Linked DNA regions of Homo sapiens. The protein of the gene in region 2 interacts with the protein of the main gene of each other region in a biochemical or structural test. Each region holds a gene or a part of one and is shown on either strand. Other genes may lie near its edges. The genes, in order: CTCF, HDLBP and XPOT.

The links.
Region 1: the proteins of HDLBP (region 2) and CTCF form a complex in vitro, tested with the Homo sapiens proteins (one study listed by BioGRID).
Region 3: the proteins of HDLBP (region 2) and XPOT form a complex in vitro, tested with the Homo sapiens proteins (one study listed by BioGRID).

Annotation. Positions count from the first base shown.
Region 1 is NC_000016.10:67,558,275-67,565,632, forward strand, and holds the start of CTCF (transcriptional repressor CTCF), read left to right. Parts: upstream 1-4,251; 5' UTR 4,252-4,450; intron 4,451-5,020; exon of another isoform or gene 5,021-5,176; intron 5,177-7,358.
Region 2 is NC_000002.12:241,249,599-241,256,705, forward strand, and holds part of HDLBP (vigilin), read right to left. Parts: coding exon 7,002-7,107; intron 6,802-7,001; coding exon 6,586-6,801; intron 5,983-6,585; coding exon 5,776-5,982; intron 5,561-5,775; coding exon 5,453-5,560; intron 3,900-5,452; coding exon 3,795-3,899; intron 3,438-3,794; coding exon 3,359-3,437; intron 383-3,358; coding exon 243-382; intron 1-242. UniProt on the Homo sapiens protein: Appears to play a role in cell sterol metabolism. It may function to protect cells from over-accumulation of cholesterol.
Region 3 is NC_000012.12:64,428,333-64,435,439, forward strand, and holds part of XPOT (exportin-T), read left to right. Parts: intron 1-1,716; coding exon 1,717-1,955; intron 1,956-3,205; coding exon 3,206-3,491; intron 3,492-5,081; coding exon 5,082-5,271; intron 5,272-6,174; coding exon 6,175-6,291; intron 6,292-6,461; coding exon 6,462-6,577; intron 6,578-7,107. UniProt on the Homo sapiens protein: Mediates the nuclear export of aminoacylated tRNAs. In the nucleus binds to tRNA and to the GTPase Ran in its active GTP-bound form. Docking of this trimeric complex to the nuclear pore complex (NPC) is mediated through binding to nucleoporins.

The DNA.
Region 1 (7,358 bases), on a different chromosome or scaffold from region 2:
TCTCAGCCCTATGTGAGAGCAGTACATAGGGTCCTTGTCTTCAGAAAGCAGGCTTCAAGGCCACTTGGACCCCATTCCTGGCTTTTGATGCCTCAGAGATCATAGAGTTATAAATATAATTAATATATAGTTGTAAATATAATCATAAATATAATTGAGGCTTTTTTCCCTCTAAATCCACTGCCTCAGGCTGGGTGTGGTGGCTTACATCTGTAATCCCAAGACTTTGGGAGGCTGAGGTGGGCGGATCTCCTGAGATCAGGAGTTCAAGACCAGCCTGGCCAACATGGCAAAACCCCGTCTCCACTAAAAATACAAAAAATTAGCCAGGAGTGGTAGTGCACACCTGTAGTCCCAGCTACTCGGGAGGCTGAGGCAGGAGAATTGCTTGAACCCAGGAAGCAGAAGTTGCAGCGAGCTGAGATCGAGCCACTGCATTCCAGCCTGGGCGACAGAGTGAGATTACATCTAAAAATAAAATAAAATAAAAAAATAAATCCACTGCTTCATATTTGCCTACATAAAAGCTTTAGAAGGTGTTCCTGTAGTCTACTCTTAAAGAAGATGGGGACAGGTGTGGTGGCTTACATCCCAGCACTTTGGAAGGCCAAGACAGGAGAATTGCTGGAGCCTGAGACCAGCCTGGGCAACACAGTGAGACCTCATCTCCACAAAAAGAAAACAAAAAACAAAAAAAAAGGAAGGTGATTTGAAGTAAAATCTTGAGAAAGTGAACTAATTAGCTTATTAATGTTACTAGAAAGAAAATCTAAAGTTTAAATGCAAGTCAGCTTTTAATTTTTTTTTTATTTTTGAGACAATGTCTTGCTCTGTCACTCAGGCTGGAATGTAGTGGTGCAATCGGGGTTCACTGCAGCTTCAACCTCCTGGGCTCAAGTGATGCTCCTGCCTCAGCCTCCCAAGTATCTGGGACTACAGGTACACACCACCATGTTCAGCTAATTTTTTGTAGAGATGGGCTTTTGCCATGTTACCCAGGCTAGTCTCAAACTCCTGGGCTCAAGTAATCCACCTACCTTGGCCTCCCAAAGTGCTGGGATTACAGGCATGAGCCACTGTGCCTGGCCTATTTTTTATTTTTTTGAGACAGGGTCTTGCTTCATCACCCAGGCTGGAGTACAGTGGCACACACATGGCTCCCTGTAGTCTCGACCTCCTGGGCTCAAGCGATCTTCCCACCTCAGCCTCCCAAGTAGCTGGGACTACAGTCATACGCCACCACACTCAGCTAATTTTTAAATTTTTTGTATAAACAAGGTCTCCCTATGTGCATGTCAGCTTTGTTGTTTCTAGTACATAAGTTCTTAAGTATACCAGGAACTATTTGGGCTGAGGAGAATGCAAAATGCAAATATTCCAGAAGCATCTGTTTGGTAATTTTCCTCTGAGTTTGTCTTTTCTTTATGTCTGAGTCCTAATGTGTACATAAGAGGCAAATGGGATAACTTGGTTTCTAGAAAAAGAAGGGTCACGTGTAAATTTTTCAAATACTTCACACATTTCTAAAATAGTATCTAATTGTATAAGGTAAGTAACTGGGATTAGACATGAGAAAACTTGCCGGGCGCGGTGAGTCGCTCCTGTAATCCCAGCACTTTGGGAGGCCGAGGCGGGCGGATCACCTGAGGTTGGGAGTTCAAGACCAGCCTGACCAACATGGAGAAACCCCATCTCTACTAAAAATACAAAATTAGTCGGGGGTGGTAGCGCATGCCTGTAATCCCAGCTACTCAGGAGGTTGAGGCAGGAGAATCGCTTGAACCCAGGAGGCAGAGGTTGTGGTGAGCTGAGATCACACCATTGCACTCCAGCCTGGGCGATAAGAGCAAAACTCCGTCTCAAAAAAAAAAAAAAGAAATGAGAAAAATTGGGTCCTGGTGTTGAGAAGCTGTACTATCCCTTTTCTTCATGTCTGTACCCAAGCAGCTGAATGTTGGAGAAAAACCAACACACTGGGCCAACTGGTTTACCTTTAACATCATGATCACAAACCTCAGATGAGTACCCAATGCCACCAAGGCAATCCTGTTAAGGACTTGCCTTCCCTCTCCCCTGCACTTGCATCTGTCTTCACCTTTGTTGCCCTTATCATGAATGGAAGCATCCCTGTTCCTCTCCAAGGTCAACCCTCCCTGTTTCCTTATATCTTCTGATGGATTTCACTCCTATATAGGTCAAGCAAGCCTCCTCTCTCCTGGATCACCCATCTTTCTTCCCCACCATATCCCTCCCAATGGCACATAAACATGCTCTGGGAACCCTACCATCTTTTATTTTATTTATTATTATTTTTTGAGATGGAGTCCCGCTTTGTTGCCCAGGCTGGAGTGCTGTGGCCCAATCTTGGCTCTCTGCAACCTCTGCCTCCCGGGTTCAAGCAATTCTCCTGCCTCAGCCTCCCCAGTAGCTTGGATTACAGGCGCGCGATACCATGCCCAACTAATTTTTGTATTTTTAGTAGAGACCGGGTTTCACCATATTGGCCAGGCTGGTCTCGAACTCCTGACCTCAGGTGATCCACCTGCCTTGGCCTCCCAAAGTGCTAGGATAACAGGCGTGAGCCACTGCGCCCGGCCCCTACTATCTTTTAAAAGATTTCTTTCTATATCTATCCCCAAACTTATCTGGTCCCTTCACAGCAAAACCTCTCTCAAATTGCATACATGTGCTGTCTCCATTTCCTCACTTTCCTGGTGACTGTTTAACCCATTCCGGTCAGGTCCACCTCCCTGATATACTCACGTGAATCAAGCCAAGGCCATCAGTGACATTCTCCAGTGACTTGCAAGGTGACCCAATCCAATAGCCACATCTCTGGCCCAAGTTTATCACACCGCTCAGCTGATGCCTCCTACCTGAAACCTTCTCTGCCCAGGGATTCCACAACTCAGCGCTAGCTTTCATGACTTCCTAGATGCTGCCTTTCAGACTCCTTCTCCATTACCCTCCCAATATTGGAGTGCCCCAGGATTTGGCCATGGAATTTCTCTTCACTCTTTCCTCCAAGCCAAGCCAGGGGTCGTAAACTGACAGCTCATCTGTGTGGTTTAATCAGCTCATGAAGTTTAAAAACATCTGATTCAGTTGCTAACATCTAAAAACTCTGGAGATTTGACATCTTAAAAATACAGATTTTTTTATTCCTTTAGGGGAAAAAAAAAGAGTATGTTATTGGGCCAGCATTCTCACAACGGAACGGTCAGATGGATGGAGAAGAAGCTGCTCCCTAGATATTGGGTCCATTTGATATCTAAGGGAAGAGTCATATTCCCTGTAAGTACCAAAAGGCTCTCATCCCAGAGCCACCAGCACCTTGCAGTCAGTTCTTGGTCAACTTGACTGCAGGTTGGGAAGGGTCCGCAGGCGCCTCCTGGGGAGGGGTGGGACTGAAGGTCTCCGCCCACAGAGAACAGCTCTCCCGCAAAGACAAGAAATGCACGTTTCCACAGAATTACACAGCGCTAAATACAGAAACTCCTTTCAGTAAAAAGCGATTGCTATGAACGTGTTAAAGCATCAAGTCTGGTTTTCCGCCACCTCTCCGGGCTGAGGTGGCCTGGGGACACCAAGAGGAGGCCCTCCCACTCTCCTCTCGCACCCGCTTTTAGGTGGCCCTCTTCTAGGGCGGAGAGATCACCAAAAGCCGCTGAGCAAGGACAGCCCTTCCAGTCGTCGCTCGCGGGCACGGAGCTGGGAGCGCGCGGGAACCGACCGGGCCTTACTCTGGGGCGGGCAGCTGTAAGACATTCGGAGGGCGGGTCGGGCCTGGCTGGGGCGGAGACTGGGCGGGGCCGGGCCCGGGAGCCTCCTCAGCCCCACTGGCTTGCCCCGCGCGCGCTTCCTCCAGCCACCCCCACTTCCCCAACCCTGTACGGGTTCAGGGGGCCGGAGACAGCAGCTAGGGAATAAGGTCAAGCGGACTGGATCCGGCACCGCCCAGGGGCGGCGGCCTCCGCCCAGGAAGCCCCACCCAGCGGGAGCCAGGACGCCGCGGCGCCGGCAGAGCCCACGAGCGACCCGGCGAGGGCGCGTGCGGCGTGACGACGCGACTCGCGGCGCGTCCCGTGACGCCATCGCGCCCGCTTTTGAAAGTTGGCGCCCGGGGCCGCCTCCCATGCTGCCCTGCGCCAACCCCTCCCCTCACCTTTCCTCCCCCGCCCTCTACTCGCCGCCCGGCCGGTCCCCCCACCCGTCCCTTCCCTTATCAGCACCCGCGGCCCCGGCAGCGCCGACGCAGGCGCACTGCACCGCGCCGCCGCCATTTTGTGTCTGAGCCTGTGGAGCGATTAAACCGTGCGCGGAGCTGCTTCTTTGGCGGCAGCGGCGGCGGCGGTGGCCGGTGCGGACGCGCGGAGCTCGCCGGAGACGCCGGGTGGCCGGAGCCGTGGAGCGGCGGCGGAGCGGGCGCCGCGGGGGGTGTGGCGCGGAGGTAAGGGGGCCCGGGGTGGAGGAGGTTTCGCGGGCCGCCTCTAGGTGTCACGATGGGGCCGCTCCGGTCGGCGCTGGCTGCAGCCCGGCGCCAGCGCCGCCGCCGGGGGGTGTTTGTCTCCCTCTACCGTCCCTGCTGCGGCGCGGCCGCCGCCATTGCCCGTCGCCGCCGTGGCCCGGCCGCCCCCCCCACCCCCACGCCCGCCCGCCCGCCCGCCCGCTAGGCCTCCCTCCTGGCAGCGCGCTAGGCCTCGGGCGGCGGCAGAGGCAGAGGCCCGCGCGCCCGGCGACTCCATTTTCCTTCCTTTGTCTGCCCTCGAGGCCGGTTCTTGGCCGGCCGATCGCCCGGCCGCGGCCCGCCCTCTGTCCTGTGTCCTCCGCCCCTCCCGCGGCGGGTGGCCCCAGCTGAGACACTATCTCCGCGTCCCGGCTTCGGCGCCCGCCTAGCTTAAGGGTTCGGACCGACTGCCGCCGCGCGCTAAGCCAGGTCCCGGTGCCGTATGGGTGTCGGGCCCTGGCCGTCGCGTCTCGGGCTGCCCCTCCTCCAGCCAGCCCCGTCCCCGGAACCTACCCTGCCGGCCTGCGTGCCTTCCCAGCTGCTTGGCTGCTCGGCGGTCGCTCCCAGTCCGCGCGTCGCCGCCGCTGGTCTCCGTCTCCGCCGAGTGGCGCAGGCGGCGCTGCAGCGGCTGCGAGCAGAGGGACCCCAGAGCTGCCGAGAGCTCCCTCTGCAAGGCTGGCTGAGCTGCTCGCACCTCTACGCTGCCTGAGCGGGCGGGGGGACGCGCGCTCGCCGCCCCCGCTGCGCCCCCAAACTCGCGCCCGGGTTCCTGGCCGGACCCGACCGGTGCGGCCCCCCCACGGTGGGCGGAAAAGATGCGAGTTCCGCACCAAGTAGTTTTTATCCAGCCGGGTTCGGACTCCCCAGCCGAGTGATAGCAGCCTGACTTTGTGCGCTCAGAGATCTCAAAGGGACTGAAACTTAAATTTCATTCTGATCTCAAGTGACGTGACAAATTTCTGAATTTGGGAGTATGGGCTAAGTCCCTTGAGTTTCCCTCCCGCTTTAAAATGTCCTCACACTAACTTAGTACCTGATGCTCTAGGGCTAGGTGAAGGCGGTTCTGCCCCAGGATTGTGCAACTCGATCTAGAGCGCCAGTAGGGCAGAATGAGTTTATTCTTGACTCGACTGGTAATTTGCCCATGCGATGAAATATGAGGGTTGATGTTGTAATTGAATCCTGGGTCACTTGCTGCAGATGGTTTATAAATATCTACGCCTAATGTAACTACTGTTTAGTAGGAGACTTCCTGTAGCCCCGAGTTCAGCGTTAAGTAAACATTCGCATACGTAGTCTTCATACTTTGAGTTTCGATCAACTAGGAAAGTTAAAAACCAAGTCCTCATAGGTGGGAAAGGAAGTTAAACAAGGCATATATTTAAATTTATTCGGTCCTTAAGTTTTCTTTCTTCACTAAAAAGCATCCCGTTGAATTGCGGGAGTCTTTTGCTTTTCCGTAAATATTCTAGTGCCTTAATATAGTTCATTGCAGCAGTTAATGTATCAGTTCGGGTTGTTTTGGAGAGAAGAAAGTCTGGATTAACCTGTTTTTAGGAAGGAAGCTATGTTAAGTTTATGAAGAAATTAAACAGCCTGGTCCTAACCAAAGTTGTCCAGTCCACTGTATGTAATCTCAATGTGTAGCTCCTCACTGCAGTCCTCTTCGTAGGCACGCTTTCTATGTCTCCTTTTGGAACCCTGCAAAATATTCCTGCCACCCCTCTTCCTCAATAAAATTGCATAGAGTAACTAAATGCAGTAGCGTTGATTGATAGTTAGACTTGGGAATAGAATCACCTTTAATTATCTAATATGTTAGTCCAATTGTGTAATTTATTGCATTCTTTTGTGACTTTGTTTTCCTTTTGAAATTGTGGTTAAGTAGCATGTTTTATTTATTTAAATAAGCTCAACATTGAGTTAAAAATTAAAATACAGCAGGTGTATAATCGAGCCAGGAGTAAAGCTTGTTTTCCCGGGTTAGTACTGTGCTCCATAGACCATATTTTGCTTCTTGGTTTGGTTGTTTCATATGCAGTCATCAGCTTCTTGGGTTTATACGTCATTTATGCTGTTTTAGTGGAATAGACCTTTTCCACACAGTTGCTATCCTTTGAAATTCCCATATGCCAGGAATCATGCTTTGTTTTGTTTTTATTAAAAAACAATCTACGGAGAGAATAAATTGAGGATGAATTGATATGTTAGGGTAACCCAGACCTTTTTTTTTTTTTGAGACGGAGTCTCGTTCTGTCCCCTAGGCTGGAGTGGCAGTGGTGCGATCTCGGCTCACTGCAACCTCTGCCTCCCGGATTCAAGCAATTCTCCTGTCTCTGCCTCCCAAGTAGCAGGAATTACAGGCCCGTGCCACCACGCCCGGCTAATTTTTGTATTTTTAGTAGAGACGGGTTTTCACGATGTTGGCCAGGCTGGTCTCGAACTCCTGACCTCAGGTGATCCACCCGCCTCAGCCTCCCAGAGTGCTGGGATTACAGGCGTGAGCCATCTCGCCAGGCCAGGACCTGTTATTTAAATTAGTGATAGGAGGATGATTAAAACAGGAATGTTTGCCTGCATAAGAAAATACTGCCTATTTAAGAGTAGTTGTGGCTGGGAGCGGTGGCTCACGCCTGTAATCCCAGCACTTTGGGTGACCAAGGCGGGAGAATCACGAGGTCAGGAGATTGAGACCATCCTGACTAACACAGTGAAACCCTGTCTCTACTAAAAATACAAAAAATTAGCCAGGCATGGTGGCACACGCCGTAGTCCTGGCTACTAGGGAGGCTGAGACAGGAGAACCGCTCGAACCTAGAAGGTGGAGGTTGCAGTGAGCCGAGATTGTGCT
Region 2 (7,107 bases):
ACGCTGCCACACAGTCTCTGTGCCCTTCTAGCACAGCACACAGCCATGGAGAACAAGACGTGCAGGTGACCTGGGGAGGATAAAGGAAATGTGGCCCCAGGGAGTCCAATCCGGTTCCAGTGCAACGTGGGATTTGTCGACTTCCATTCTCTAAGGCCGCACACCACAACACGCTACTCCTTAGAGGGGGCCAAGAGACGCAAGGCCAGTGCCTTTCTAGAGGGCCCAGCCATGGCACTTACCATGCGAGATGCAAGCTCCAGCAGCTCTCGCTTGGCCTGCTGCACGCCCTGTGGGTCCCCCTCGATGCGGATCAAATTGCTCTTCTCACTGTCAGGAGGGATGCGCACGGACACCTTGTACTGGTCTTTGATTCTGTTTACTTAGGAACACAAAAGGAAACACATTTAGGACACAGACCAACAACATTCTGCCAATGACATAACTGGGCAGGACAGCGCTAAAGCGCTAAATAACCTTATCTGTGATTCCCATCACCAAAAACGATGCTTAGCTTCCCAAACAAAAATCTCCATTGTCTAGAATGGGGGCCAGTTATGATCTTCACCTGGATCACAAGGGTTCTGGAGGACAGGCTCTCAGCCTGGACCAGAAGCTGGAAATGCCCCGAGACCTTCAAATAACTGACGGTTGGGGCCACTCAGTCTGGGATTTAGCTCGTCTGGGGTATTGGCCAGGGCTTCAGAATAGTTGAAGGATTCCAGGTGTTTCTAATGTGCAGTAAGTTTGGGAACTACTATTCTCAAGTTAAAAAAACCACACACATTAACTCCACACAAAAGCACTCACTGACGCCTAAGAGCCTTGTGGGGCCCATGCTGCTGCCCAGAGACCCCATCTACTGTTGGCTCAGATTCACACTGAGCACTTCACTGTGTCTGCAAGACAAGTGCTGTTGCAAACCCTCCTGCTGTCAACCTCTCTGGATAGAACCCAGTACCCCCAAGTTAAGAGTTCCAGGCCCCCCAAACTCTGGAGAAGCCGTATCATCAGGAAACAAGGCAGGAATCTTGCCCACTGTGCAGTAAAGGGAAGCCCAGCTTGCTGGAAGGACCACGAGGAGGGCTTTTTGTGCGTCCATCCCAAACACATGCACACGCAGAGGCAGCAACGAGGCGATGCACTGAGGGGGGAACATGGACATGCAGCTGTGCCAGGTGAAGCAACACAAGACAAGAGAAGCAGAGGACATGGGAGCTGGGCAGCAGGTTTTTTTAGATTACGAAAGAAGACAAGAGTTAGGAACTGCATGAGAAGAAAACAGAACAGACATGACTGACTAAGCTACATTCTGCAATTTCTCGGGGGCAGAAACCAGAAATTAATGTTAGATTTACACTACTGTACTTCCATATATATGTGTTTTGAGACAGGGTCTTGCTCTGTCACCCAGGCTAAAATGCAGTGGCACGATACAATCACAGCTCACTGCAGCCTTGACTTCCTGGGCTCAAGTGATATTCCTGCCTCAGCCTCCAGAGCAGCGGGGACCACAGGCCTGGCTAAATTTTTCTTTTTTGTAGAGACAGGGGTCTCACTATGTTGCCCAGGCTCATCTCGAACTCCTGGGCTCAAGTGATCCTCCTGCCTTGGTCTCCCAAAATGCTGGGATTACAGGCAAGAGCCACCGTGTCAGGCCTAAACAAACGCTACAGTTAACCAAAACCAAAACAAAACCGTAAAAGCAAGTTTATGGTGTATGTGTGGTTCAAGTAGTGCGCAAAAAGGTCACTTTGTGCCTACAGACTCTCGTCGCTGTCACGTAAAATGCCCACAAAACATAAGACTGACACCAGAGAGCTCACCATTGCACAGGCCACAGCACAGCTGCCAAGGCTATGTTTACTCATAACAAAAACGGATACACGGACGTCAGTCATGTTATGCAGGTCGGTGTCCCACTACCTGGGAAAGGCTCCTTCATCCACTGAACTATCCAGGAATGGAGGACGTGCTTGCCTTCTCACCTTCCACCCAAAGGTAACACACGCGACGTGTGCACTTGTTTTCAGAACACGCGAGTGTGTGAGTATAGCCATACAGTTAAACAAAGAGGTGTAAAAAAACATTCTTGGTTGGGCACAGTGGCTCATGCCTGTAATCCCAGCACTTTGGGAGGCCGAGGTGGGCAGATCAACTAAGGTCAGCAGTTTGACACCAGCCTAGACAACATGGTGAAATTCCATCTCTACTAAAAATACAAAAAAATTAGCTGGGTGTGGTGGTGCACGCCTGTAATCCCAGCTACTTGGGAGGCTGAGGCAGGAGAATCGCTTGAACCTGGGAGGTGGACGTTGCAGTGAACTGAGATCACGCCACTGCACTCCAGCCTGGTGACAGAGCGAGACTCCGTCCCAAAAAACAAACAAACAACACAAAACATCCTTGGACCTGCAGCAGAATGCCCACGACACACTTCTAACAGCATCCTGTAACTGTGCTACACCTGCAACCTGGCACAGGTGAGGCACACAGCGACCTTGGCCCACATGACATACTTCCAACAGTGTCCTGTAACTGTGCTACACCTACAACCTGGCACAGGTGAGGCATATAGCGACCTTGGCTGACATATCACTGCCTCTTCAACAGAATCCCCCTGCTGGGTGTGGTGGCTCACACTTTTAATCCCAGCACCTTGGGAGGCCAAGGTGGGCAGATCACCTGAGCCCAGGAATTTGAGACAAGCCTGGCCAACATGGTGAAACCCCGTCTCTTCTAAAAATACAAAAATTAATTGGCTGTGGTGGCATGCACCTGTAGTCCCAGCTACTCAGGAGGCTGAAGCTGGAGAATTGCTTGAGCCCGGTAGGCAGAGGTTGTAGTGAGCTGAGATCACGCCACTGCACTCCAGCCTGGGTGACAGAGTGAGACCCTGTCTCAAAAAAGTATCCCTCCCCATGTTGTTTTACTTGGGCACAAATCTAGAATGTTTTTACTCTTCAGTGAGTTCCAGATCAGCAGTTTCCACGTTCAGAAGGCATGAGTACTACCAACACTGATTGGCTAACCTAGCAGGTCTGACGGAAATATAGAGAATGCTGCCCTTGGGCATGCCTTCAACATGGCCTCTGTGGGTTATTTGGGGAGGGCTTAGATGGATTTCCAAAAGTGACAATTCACCCACTGGCCAAGCAGCTCTAATCCAACCACTGCACCAAAGGGAAAAGGAAAAGTGGCCTCTTCCAGCAGGCAGGAGGATGTAAAGTCTGTAACTCCCATTACAGGCAGCAATGGGCCTGGACTGTCTGCACGGACGTCACAGTTCTCACAGCTGACACCCCCCACAAGGGTCTCAGGGCACACTGGCCCCACCGCAACAGACAGCCTCACTCACTGTTGGCACCGCTCTTCCCAATGAGGTGCCTGTGGAACTTGTGGTCGATGTTGATCTCCACATAGTCCATCCGGTTAATCTGCAGGAGGAGCACAGAGGTCCATGGATGCGCCTGGTTACTTGGCCAATGAGCTGAACCAAAACCCAGCAGTCTCCACGGTTGCCTTTTCTGACCACTCAGCTGTCAGGAATTGTTGGAGACTGCCCCTGCATCTCCCCTGAAAGATGCCTTCTTCAAGATGAAGTTTCCTCCACCCACGATTATTCCAGGACTTCGACCAGCTTCTGGTTGTTTCAGAACCTATTACTCACCCAGCTAGGATGCCCTGGGTGTCTGTGCCCGGACATGTGGGATGTCATCGAGAGATGACCGCCCATGCCCAACTCAGAGCCTCCCTTGTCACCAGCACACACAACATTCCAAGGGGTACCTTACCAAATCTTTGACCATGCCTTCTATCTGTTCCTGGGCCACATTGACATCCTCTGTAGGGCCCTCCAGGGTGATCTTGTCTTCGCCCTCTGTGAACTCGATGTGAACCTACCACACCAAAACCAAAGAGATAGCTAAAACAGAATGGCACAGCTGCAGCCCCTGAGCTCCCAGTGGGAGCTCTCTTCGGAGCGGCTTCTGATCCCAAACTGCTTCACATAGATGTGAGGGAGGGAGGGACATATCCACAGCCATCAAACAAAGTTGAAAGGGAGGGTTAGGGAGCCATAGTCAGGAAACTAAATACTGTGGCCGAATAATCCTGCCTCTCACTAAGGACACCGTTTGCCCCACAGAAGCCACTAACATAAAGCATGCGACATGCGACATGCTCCTCCACCATCTGAACTTTTACAAGGCCTGGTCCTCTTGAGTTGCATAAAGAATGAGACAGAGCACGGATGGAATTTTAAAACTCGTATAGCTGTACCAAGGTGGTAAAGTAACTTGCTTGACATAGACAAGGCTGCCAGAGTTCCTGGTTTATTATCCTCCAGGTAAGGAGTTAAGGAAGGCAGACTGGTCCTTATATGAAGCTATACAAAGTAAAAGGGGCTGGGCACAGTGACTCACACCCATAACCTCAATATTTTGGGAGGCTGAGGTAGGAGGACTACTTGATCCCACGAGTTCGAGATCAACCTGGGCAACTAGTAAGACTCTGCCTCCACGAAAACTAGCCTGGGGCGCCTGTAGTGCCAGCTACTTGGGAAGCTGAGACGAGCGGATCACTTGACCCATGAGTTCAAGGCTGCAGTGAGCTATGACTGCGCTACTGCACCCCAGCCTGGGTGACAGAGTGAGGCTTTGTCACTAAAAAAAAGGAATAAAATAAAAAAAATTTAATTTTTAAAAAGGACTGTAACATTAATTGGAAACAAAGTTTAAATAAAACAGGAATTAAATATGATGGTTGGATTCTCTGGTATTTCTTTTTTGTTCATGTTTCCTGGGGGCTACAATCTCCTTTGGTAAACTGAGAACGCTTTAAATTCACACTTAATACAATTTGTATACAAGTTCTGCTCTTCAAAGTATTTTTTTTTTTTTTTTGAGACAGAGTCTCGCTCTGTCGCCAAGGCTGGAATGCAGTGGTGCCATCTCGGCTCACTGCAAGCTCCACCTCCCGGGTTCACGCCATTCTCCTGCCTCAGCCTCCCAAGCAGCTGGGACCACAGGTGCCCGCCACCAAGCCCGGCTAATTTTTTGTATTTTTAGTAGAGTCGGGGTTTCACCATGTTAGCCAGGATGGTCTCGATCTCCTGACCTCATGAGCCACCGCACCCGGCCCGCCAAAGTATCATGAAGTTATTTCACCATAATTACTAAATGACATGTTTCTTAAGATACTTATGAAACCTAAGAACATACAATCCTCTCTGGTTAAAGGCCAGAAGGATGGTACAGACATCTACAGACATTTATTCTGCTGTTCTTTAAGCTAACACGGAAGTTGACCATGTCAAACAGGCCAGTTAATTCAGAAAAATACACCAGTTTTCAAGGGCATCCACAGTACAAAGGTCAACAAAGCAATATCAGAAACAGAAAGACAGAAAACAAGACAAATTCAATACAACAGGTGAAAAACGTGTCCTTACCTTTGGCATCTGCTGAGTGATTTTGGCCAGGTTCTGCCCTTTCTTGCCAATGATGAAACGGTGAAGCCAGGAAGGGGCGGCGACAGAGGAGACGGTGAAGCTATTGGCCTAAGAAAATGGGAGAACAGCCATGGGTTTGCAGAGCTCAAGGTCGTGTCACAGTGAAAGCCAGGCTGCTCACCTGGGGCTCAGAGGCACGCTCTCCCCAAACCTGGGCACCTGCACTGTGTCCAGGCCCCAGGATTTACAAATCGAGAGCTCATCCATGAAGGCCCCGCGGACTCCACTCAAAGGAGACACACTTCATGCTCGGAGGCAGTTACCTTGGCATAGACTTCAGTCAACGCCTGACCTAACTTTTCAGGTTCGCCTCGAAGTATTACAGTCTCAGAGATGCTGTCTGAGGGTGGGATCTCAACGGAAACTCCAGTTCTCTCAAGGATCTCCTGCAATGAATTGCCCTTGGGCCCAATGACATACTTGTGTTGGGATTTCTTCACTTCCACTGCAATGGTTGTAGTCTTCTTTTTCTAAATAAGAGCACCATAAGGGGCAGTCAAAGGGAAAGGTGTGGGAAGCGGGCAGGTGGGCATGGCCACTGCTGCAGAAAGCAAGCCAAAGCGGCCCAGACTATAGATGCTGATCCCAAGAAGTGAACAACAAGTGATCAGGACTAGCCAATCCCCAGAAACTTCACTGTTCAAGGACTGGATTTTTCCCCTCAGTCTAGTCACCCGCCGGCTGATAACTTCGTCCTTGAACACTGCAAAACACCCAATCCTTTCCCTCAATTAAGGAACACGTTTCAGACCTCAAAGTTCACTAAGCTGAGCTAACAGCTTAATCTAAGACGTGAACAAGTCCGGGATGTGCATCTGACCCGGGGCAGCCCAGCTGGCAGCCTGTCAGCACAGTCAGAGGCCCAGGACGGCAAGGACAACTGCCAGGCAGATGCTCAACAGCAAGGGGGGGCGGGCACCGATCTCACCCGGGTCACTCAAGTGTAGAGACAATAAGCATCTTCATCAAGGACAAAAAGATAAGGGGCAGAACCAGGCCTTAACTGAATCTCCAGACCCAAATCCTCATTTCTATTCCTGCCCATGGGGATTTGCCTCCTCTAAATCGTGTACCTTCTCCTCATAAATCTTCTTGATGCGAGCCACAGCCTGAGCCAACTGTTCCTTCTCTCCAGTGAAGACAATCTCTGTCCGGTTCACGCTGGGTGGGGGGATGTTGATGCGCGTGCCTGTCTCCTGCATGATCTCGCCAACCAGTCTATTATACGGCCCAGCGATGAAGGGGTGGAATGCCTTTTCTACTTCTAGCCTCTCCACAGCACGTTTGTCCTGGAAAGGAAGGGATGATCTGATGAGAACAGGCCTTTGAAAACAAACTGGGGACAGACAGGGCTTTTTAGAGTTGGAGTCAAGCCCTCCACCCCCACCACATTATGCCTTGAAGTCCACACTGGACACGGCAACCCATGAGGGAGTGAGGTCTGCACAAGCAGGTAGGCAGGGGCACGAGGCACTCACACAGGCCTCACCTGCTCGGCAGAGATGAGTAAGACTTCATGGCGAGCTTTCTCGATGCCCTCTTTGGTGCCAGTGATCTTGATCTGATTGCTGGGGTCATCTGGGCGTGGGATCTGG
Region 3 (7,107 bases), on a different chromosome or scaffold from region 2:
GGTATATTGTTAAAATGTTGAAGCATTTTATGAAGAAGAAAAAATTCATTAAAGATGAGCTTGCTGTTAAAATGAAAAGTATATTAAAAATTTTAAAAACCAAAAGAAAATAAAAATTTAAAAAATTCAACTTCTAAATTATTCTGTTTAATCCTATAATTGTATTAGCCATTCTTAGCAGCTGCTACTGTTAGATCGAAGGTTTTCCCTGTCATTTCAGGCTTAGGGTAAAAAAAAAAATTAAGTGCTAGTCGATCTGAATATTTTGGTGTTGGGATTGGGCCATAATCCCAAGTGTTAAAATCCTGAAATCCTAAAAACCACAATTCTAAAAGATCAAAATCTTAAAAATATAATCCTGGAAAAAGTAATTTTAAAAAATTATTTGAAAGATATTACTTTACATTTTTAAAAGGGAATGTATTTGAGAAACATGTAAAAACATGACAGCACTTCATAGGCCACTTTACACAATAAAATAGGCAATAATAACATGCTTTTGCAAGCATAAACAGTTATAAAAATGACAGTTACATGTGTAAAACAGGAGCAGACAAACTGTATTCATAAATCAGAAAGCAAAATGTGTAAGTGCATGTCACTATGGTTAGTAGTTGTGTGCCACTCTGCTTTATAACTGCGCTCATCTGAAATAACCATGACAGACAACCTAAGTCTTGAGGAAATTGATAAAAAACGGCAATGGGTCACTACAACATATGCAGTCACCCAAAGAACTGAGATCACAAGAAATTTTATGTTTCACAGATGCAGATGTACAGAAAGGACCTTTCTTGTGTACATGCAGTGTTTACACACACAGTTAATGCTGTGTGTAATGTACTTTTGCAGAGTCAAATTTCTGATGTTCAAGGCCGCAGAAGAAAAGTCTGTCCACCTTTCAGAGAGAGACCAATTTGCCTTATGTATTTGTTCTCTCAGAGCCCCTGGTCAATTGGATGGTGCCCGCCAACACTGAGGGCAGGTCTTCCCCACATAGTCTACTTGGACTGACTAATCTTTCCTGGAAACACCCTTACAGACACATGCAAAATAATGCTTTACTGTGTGTTGTTACTTAATTATTTAAAAGAAGTATAGCACTCTAGTACTTTTTTTTTTTTTTTTGAGACAGAGTCTTGGCTCTGTCACCCAGGCTGGAGTGCAGTGGCATGGTCTTGACTCACTACAACTCTACCTCTCAGGTTCAAGCAGTTCTCCTGCCTCAGCCTCCCGCGTAGCTGGGACTACAGGTGCGCCACCACACCCAGCTAATTTTTGTATTTTTAGTAGAGACAGGGTTTCACCACGTTGACCAGGCTGGTCACGAACTCCTGACCTCAAGTGATCTGCCGGCCTCGGCCTCCCAAAGTGCTAGGATTACAGGCATGAACCACCACATGCAGCCTAGCCTCATAACAATCTTATATAAATAAGATCTTTACAAAAGAAAACAAGTTAGAAAGCTAACTTTAATAATTATCTTACATGATCATTTATAGAGTCTTGTCAGGGCTGGAATTAGAACCGTGATCTGTTGACCTCTAATTTAGTTTTCTTTTCATTCTATGGTCCTGGGAGAAAATTTGTCTTTATAAGTATTTGACATATGAGTTGGTGTGATAGATTACATTTCCTGTTCCTAATGCACTTTTTCTCATTAAATGAAGGGAACTCAAAAAATAAAAGCTTTAATAAGACTGAATTTCATTCTAGGAGAATGGCCACCAGTCCTTACTGAGCAGCGATGATCAACTTTTTATTTATGAGACAGCTGGAGTGCTGATTGTTAATAGTGAATATCCGGCAGAAAGGAAACAAGCCTTAATGAGGAATCTGTTGACTCCACTAATGGAGAAGTTTAAAATTCTGTTAGAAAAGTTGATGCTGGCACAAGATGAAGAAAGGCAAGCCTCTCTAGCAGACTGTCTTAACCATGCTGTTGGATTTGCAAGGTAAGTGTGATCACAGTTAAAATTATAAAGTGCATGTATCTACACAGACAGAACCACTTGTTTGGTGGGCACACACATTTGTGTTTCCACAGTTGGATAATCCAGAGAATTGTCTAAATCTTTGTCCTCCAAATCCAGTCAGTTAGATTTGGTTGAAGAAGGGGATAGGTTACATACCATTTACATTTTTGCCTTGACAACTGTAAATCTTTAACTCCTCTGACTTCTCTGATATAAATGGGTTGTGTGTTTAAGAGGATCAGCTGAAGTGTTAATATACCAAATATATATTGGGACGGGACATCTTTGGTTAGTCTTGGTTACCTTAAAGAGAAGAGCGTGAGGTTTCTCTTCAGTTGTATTGTGTCCTGAAGATCACCCAAGCAGCTGTTTTTTCCGCCTCTAGCCATACTTTTTGTTGACAAACAACAGCATGAAAGTTGTAAAGATTGCTAATTTAGAAGTTAAATTGTTCTATAATATATTTAAGAACAAGAGCTAGATATTAGAGAGGTTGTATAAAGAATTCTGAAGATGGTTTTCTAAATTTAAATGGGTGGTTTGCAGGTTACCTAGTACAGGCCTAGTCATAATAAGTGGATTTATTTTCTCTTTTCTGTCCACTTTGTCAGTAGGATTTTTCTCTTTTTTTTCTTTTTTCTTTTTTTTGTGGGGGAGACACAGTCTTGCTTTGTCACTCAGGCTGGAGTGCAGTGTTGTGATCTCAGCTCAGTGCAACCTCCGCCTCCCAGGCTCAAGCAATTCTTGTGCCTCAGCCTCCAAGTAGCTGGGATTGCAGGCATGTGCTACCACACCCAGCTAATTTTTCTATTTTTAGTAAAGACCGGTTTTGACCATGTTGTCCAGACTGGTCTTGAACTCCTGGCCTCAAGTGATTTGCCTGCCTTAGCCTCCCAAAGTGCTGGAATTAGAAGCATGAGCCACAATACCCAGCCCAGTCAATAGGATTTTAATAAAACATTTAGGTAGACTCACATTAGAAGGATTATATTAACTACATGTCATTCATTTAAGTTAATTTGAGCTCTTTTGTTCTGGAAAGATCATTGGAAGCAGTAGTTTACAAATAGCCATATTAGCTAAAGATGGAAGTAATTGTGATGTGGAAAATAAAGGTCTGGTTATTTAGTTTTGTTAATTTTGTAATTTGTTGTGCATTGCTTTTGAATACTCCATAACACTTTTAAAGAATAAAGTTGCATCTGATTGCCTGATTTTTGCTTATATAGTCGAACCAGTAAAGCTTTCAGCAACAAACAGACTGTGAAACAATGTGGCTGTTCCGAAGTTTATCTGGACTGTTTACAGACATTCTTGCCAGCCCTCAGTTGTCCCTTACAAAAGGATATTCTCAGAAGTGGAGTCCGTACTTTCCTTCATCGAATGATTATTTGCCTGGAGGAAGAAGTTCTTCCGTTCATTCCATCTGCTTCAGAACATATGCTCAAAGATTGTGAAGCAAAAGATCTCCAGGAGTTCATTCCTCTTATCAACCAGATTACGGCCAAATTCAAGGTACCGCAAACTTTCAGAGCTCTGAAAATCTCTTGAAGATCAGATGTATTTATCTTCAGACATGTTTCGGATTTTGCCCTTGGGTTTCTTTTTTTTTGCTTTTAATGAATTACTTAAGAGCCTCATGGATCATATGTATTTTTATCATCTGTGGTGTCTGGCACACTGCCTGATACATAGGTCATGCTTAATAGATGTTTGAATATAAACAGACCCTAACCGCTTTGTGTAGCAAAAGAAAACTAGTCTGCTGTTTTAGAAGAGCATATAAAACCAGTAAACTGAGTACTAAATAAGCACCATAATTCAGGTACCCAAGCAAGAGTTAAAAGTAATTCAATGTATTAAAGTCAGTTTTCTGTAGGACATTTAAGCTGGCTAATAAAAGTGGTTAATACTTACATAGTACCTCTTTTTTCCTTTTTTCTTTTTTTTTTAAATGGAGATAGTCTCACTCTGTCACATAGGCTGGAGTGCAGTGGCGCGGTCACAACTCACTGCAACCTCCACCTCCCAGGTTCAAGCGATTCTTGTGCCTCAGCCTCCTGAGTAGCTGGAACTATAGGTGCATGCACCACACCACGCTAATATTTTGTACTTTTAGTAGAGACAGCGTTTCCCCATGTTGACCAGGCTAATCTCGAACTCCTGACCTCAAGTGATCCTCCTGCCTCGGCCTCCATAAGTGCTAGGATTACAGGCATAAACCTGGCCACTTACATAGTACTTTCTATGTTCAAAATCTGTTCTAAGCATTTTTTGTACATTTACTCATTTGATCTTCATACCTACCCTAGAAGACAGGGATTATATGTTATAGTTGAGGAAACTGAGGCATGGAGAAGTGAAGGGATTTGCCCAAGAGTTCATAAAACTCAGGAGTTCATTTGTAAGCAAGTATTGAGAACATGCTATTAAACAATGTTTTTTACCTTTGTTCAAAAACAAGAAAAACCCTAAGAGTTTAATCATATAATTCATTTTTTGAGAATTTAATTTTGAAAATATTCCATGGCAATATTGTGAAATATGTCTGACTATTATTTTAACCTAAATCTTAAGCTGTAGGAAAGGGTTTAAATTTAATGATCTTGAGTCTTTTAGTAATATTTTTTAAGGTTTTTTCCCCACCTTGAAATGGAGTCTTGCTGTGTTGCCCAGGCTGGAGTGCAGTGGTATGATCTTGACTCACTGCAACCTCCACCTCTCAGGTTCAAGCAGTTCCCCTGCGTCAGCCTCCTGAGTAGCTTGGACTGGGACTACAGGCGTGCGCCACTACACCCAGCTAATTTTTGTATTTTTAGTAGAGATGGGGTTTCACCATGTTGGGCAGACTGGCCTTGAACTCCTGACCTCAGGTGACTCACCCGCCTTAGCCTCCCAAAGTGCTGGGATTACAGGTGTGAGCCACTGCGTCTGGCCTAGTAATGTTTAGGTTATATAGATTTTATCTTAAAATTGATATTTGCTAACTGAATTATGTACGCATGCATCCTAAATAGAAAAGAAAGGCTTTATGTAAAATAGTTTTTTCTAAGTTGTATGTTAATATTGTTACTAATTTCTGAAGTAATGATTGTTTATCTTCAGATACAGGTATCCCCGTTTTTACAACAGATGTTCATGCCCCTGCTTCATGCAATTTTTGAAGTGCTGCTCCGGCCAGCAGAAGAAAATGACCAGTCTGCTGCTTTAGAGAAGCAGATGTTGCGGAGGAGTTACTTTGCTTTCCTGCAAACAGTCACAGGCAGTGGGATGAGCGAAGTTATAGCAAATCAAGGTGGGAACACATGCCATATCTAATTTGTCTGCTTAAGTCTGTGTCACTGTTGTACATCTATATGACCAAGAGCAAACTGAAGTAAATACAGAAATTTTGAAGTTTGCTATCCCATGGGAAGACAGTTTATTGTTTTCAGGGTGGGAATTGATCACTTTTATGTAAAGCACCTAAAATTAATTTGTATTCTGTTCCTTTTTCTTTCTGCAATATTTTTTTAATTTGGTTCTTTAGCAATATAAATAACATGGTTACTTACCAGAATTGACCTGACAATTGAGTCTTTATGGCAAATTTGCCATTTTGAAATATAAAATAAATGGAGCTGTACAGATTTGTGTAGAGAATTCTGTATAGGAAATTTAGGGAACAAGATACCAGGGGCAAACTGATTTTTCATTGTTTTATTTTTTAATTTGATTTGATTTGTGAGATAGGGTCTCACTCTCTTGCCCAGGCTGTAGTGCAGTGGTGTCATCACGACTCATTGCAACCTCCACCTCCTGGGCTATCCTCCCATCTCTACCTCCTGAGTAGCCAGGACCATTGGCAGTTGCCACAATGCTGGGCTTATTTTTTGTAGAGATGGGATCTCACCACGTTGCCCAGGCTGGTTAAACTCCTGGGCTCAAGCAATCTTCCTCGGCCTTACAAAGGGCTGGAATTACAGACAGGAGCCACCGCGCCCAGCTGATTTTTCAGTGTTTAATGTTTAAACTTTAGGTGCCCAGTTAATAAAAATCAAGGGATTTTGGCAATTCTGTAAATGCTTTTTTCCCCCTTCATTTTTCCCATTCCACCTGTAAATGATTTTTGACTTGTTAATGTATATGAAAAGAGAACTTCAGGTTGCTTTCCTAGTTAATTTTGGAAATTGCTTAAACTAAAGGTTTTTCTCCTCAGGTGCAGAGAATGTAGAAAGAGTGTTGGTTACTGTTATCCAAGGAGCAGTTGAATATCCAGATCCAATTGCACAGAAAACATGTTTTATCATCCTCTCAAAGTTGGTAGAACTCTGGGGTAAGATAATTTTATTTCTTAACCTTCATTTCCCAAACTCTTTCATAAAACTCTTAGACATAATGGAACATAGCCCTAACAGAGAGAGAAACTGGGAGTTGGTTTTCCCTGGTGATGAATTAATTGACTTACTTTTATATATAAGATGAAAATTTGAATTCTCTTGACAGGAGGTAAAGATGGACCAGTGGGATTTGCTGATTTTGTTTATAAGCACATTGTCCCCGCATGTTTCCTAGCACCTTTAAAACAAACCTTTGACCTGGCAGATGCACAAACAGTATTGGTAAGCACCTAGGAATCTTTGTTTACCTTGTGTAGCTCATATATTCCCAATTTCTTCTTTAATGCCAGGTTGATTATATTATGTTTCATTGATTTTTTTTTTAACTTAGTGATTTCAGATCAGGGTTCTTTTTTTAAAGATTTATGATACCTTCTGGAGTTTTTATGAATTCTTATTGAATCCCAATGCTACTGCTGAATTTTACAAATTCTACTCCTTCGACTTTAACACCTGACTTTTTCTAGGACCATGAAAGGGCATATGTCACAAACATTCTTTCAAGCTTGAGTATTAGTTTCCTACTACTACTTTAATTCTAAAACTTGTACCTAGTGGTTTTCCCTAATCATTAAGAGCATGAAATGGCAACTTGATCCTCCTTGTATGATAGTTTCCCCAAATCTAATTTTCACAATACTTAATGTCAATTTCCGCTTTCTCACTTTCCCACAACCTGGTAAAAGCTAGATTTCATAATTGTAATTTACTACGTTAAAACAACAGTTTGTATTTTTCTGTTTTTTTTCTTT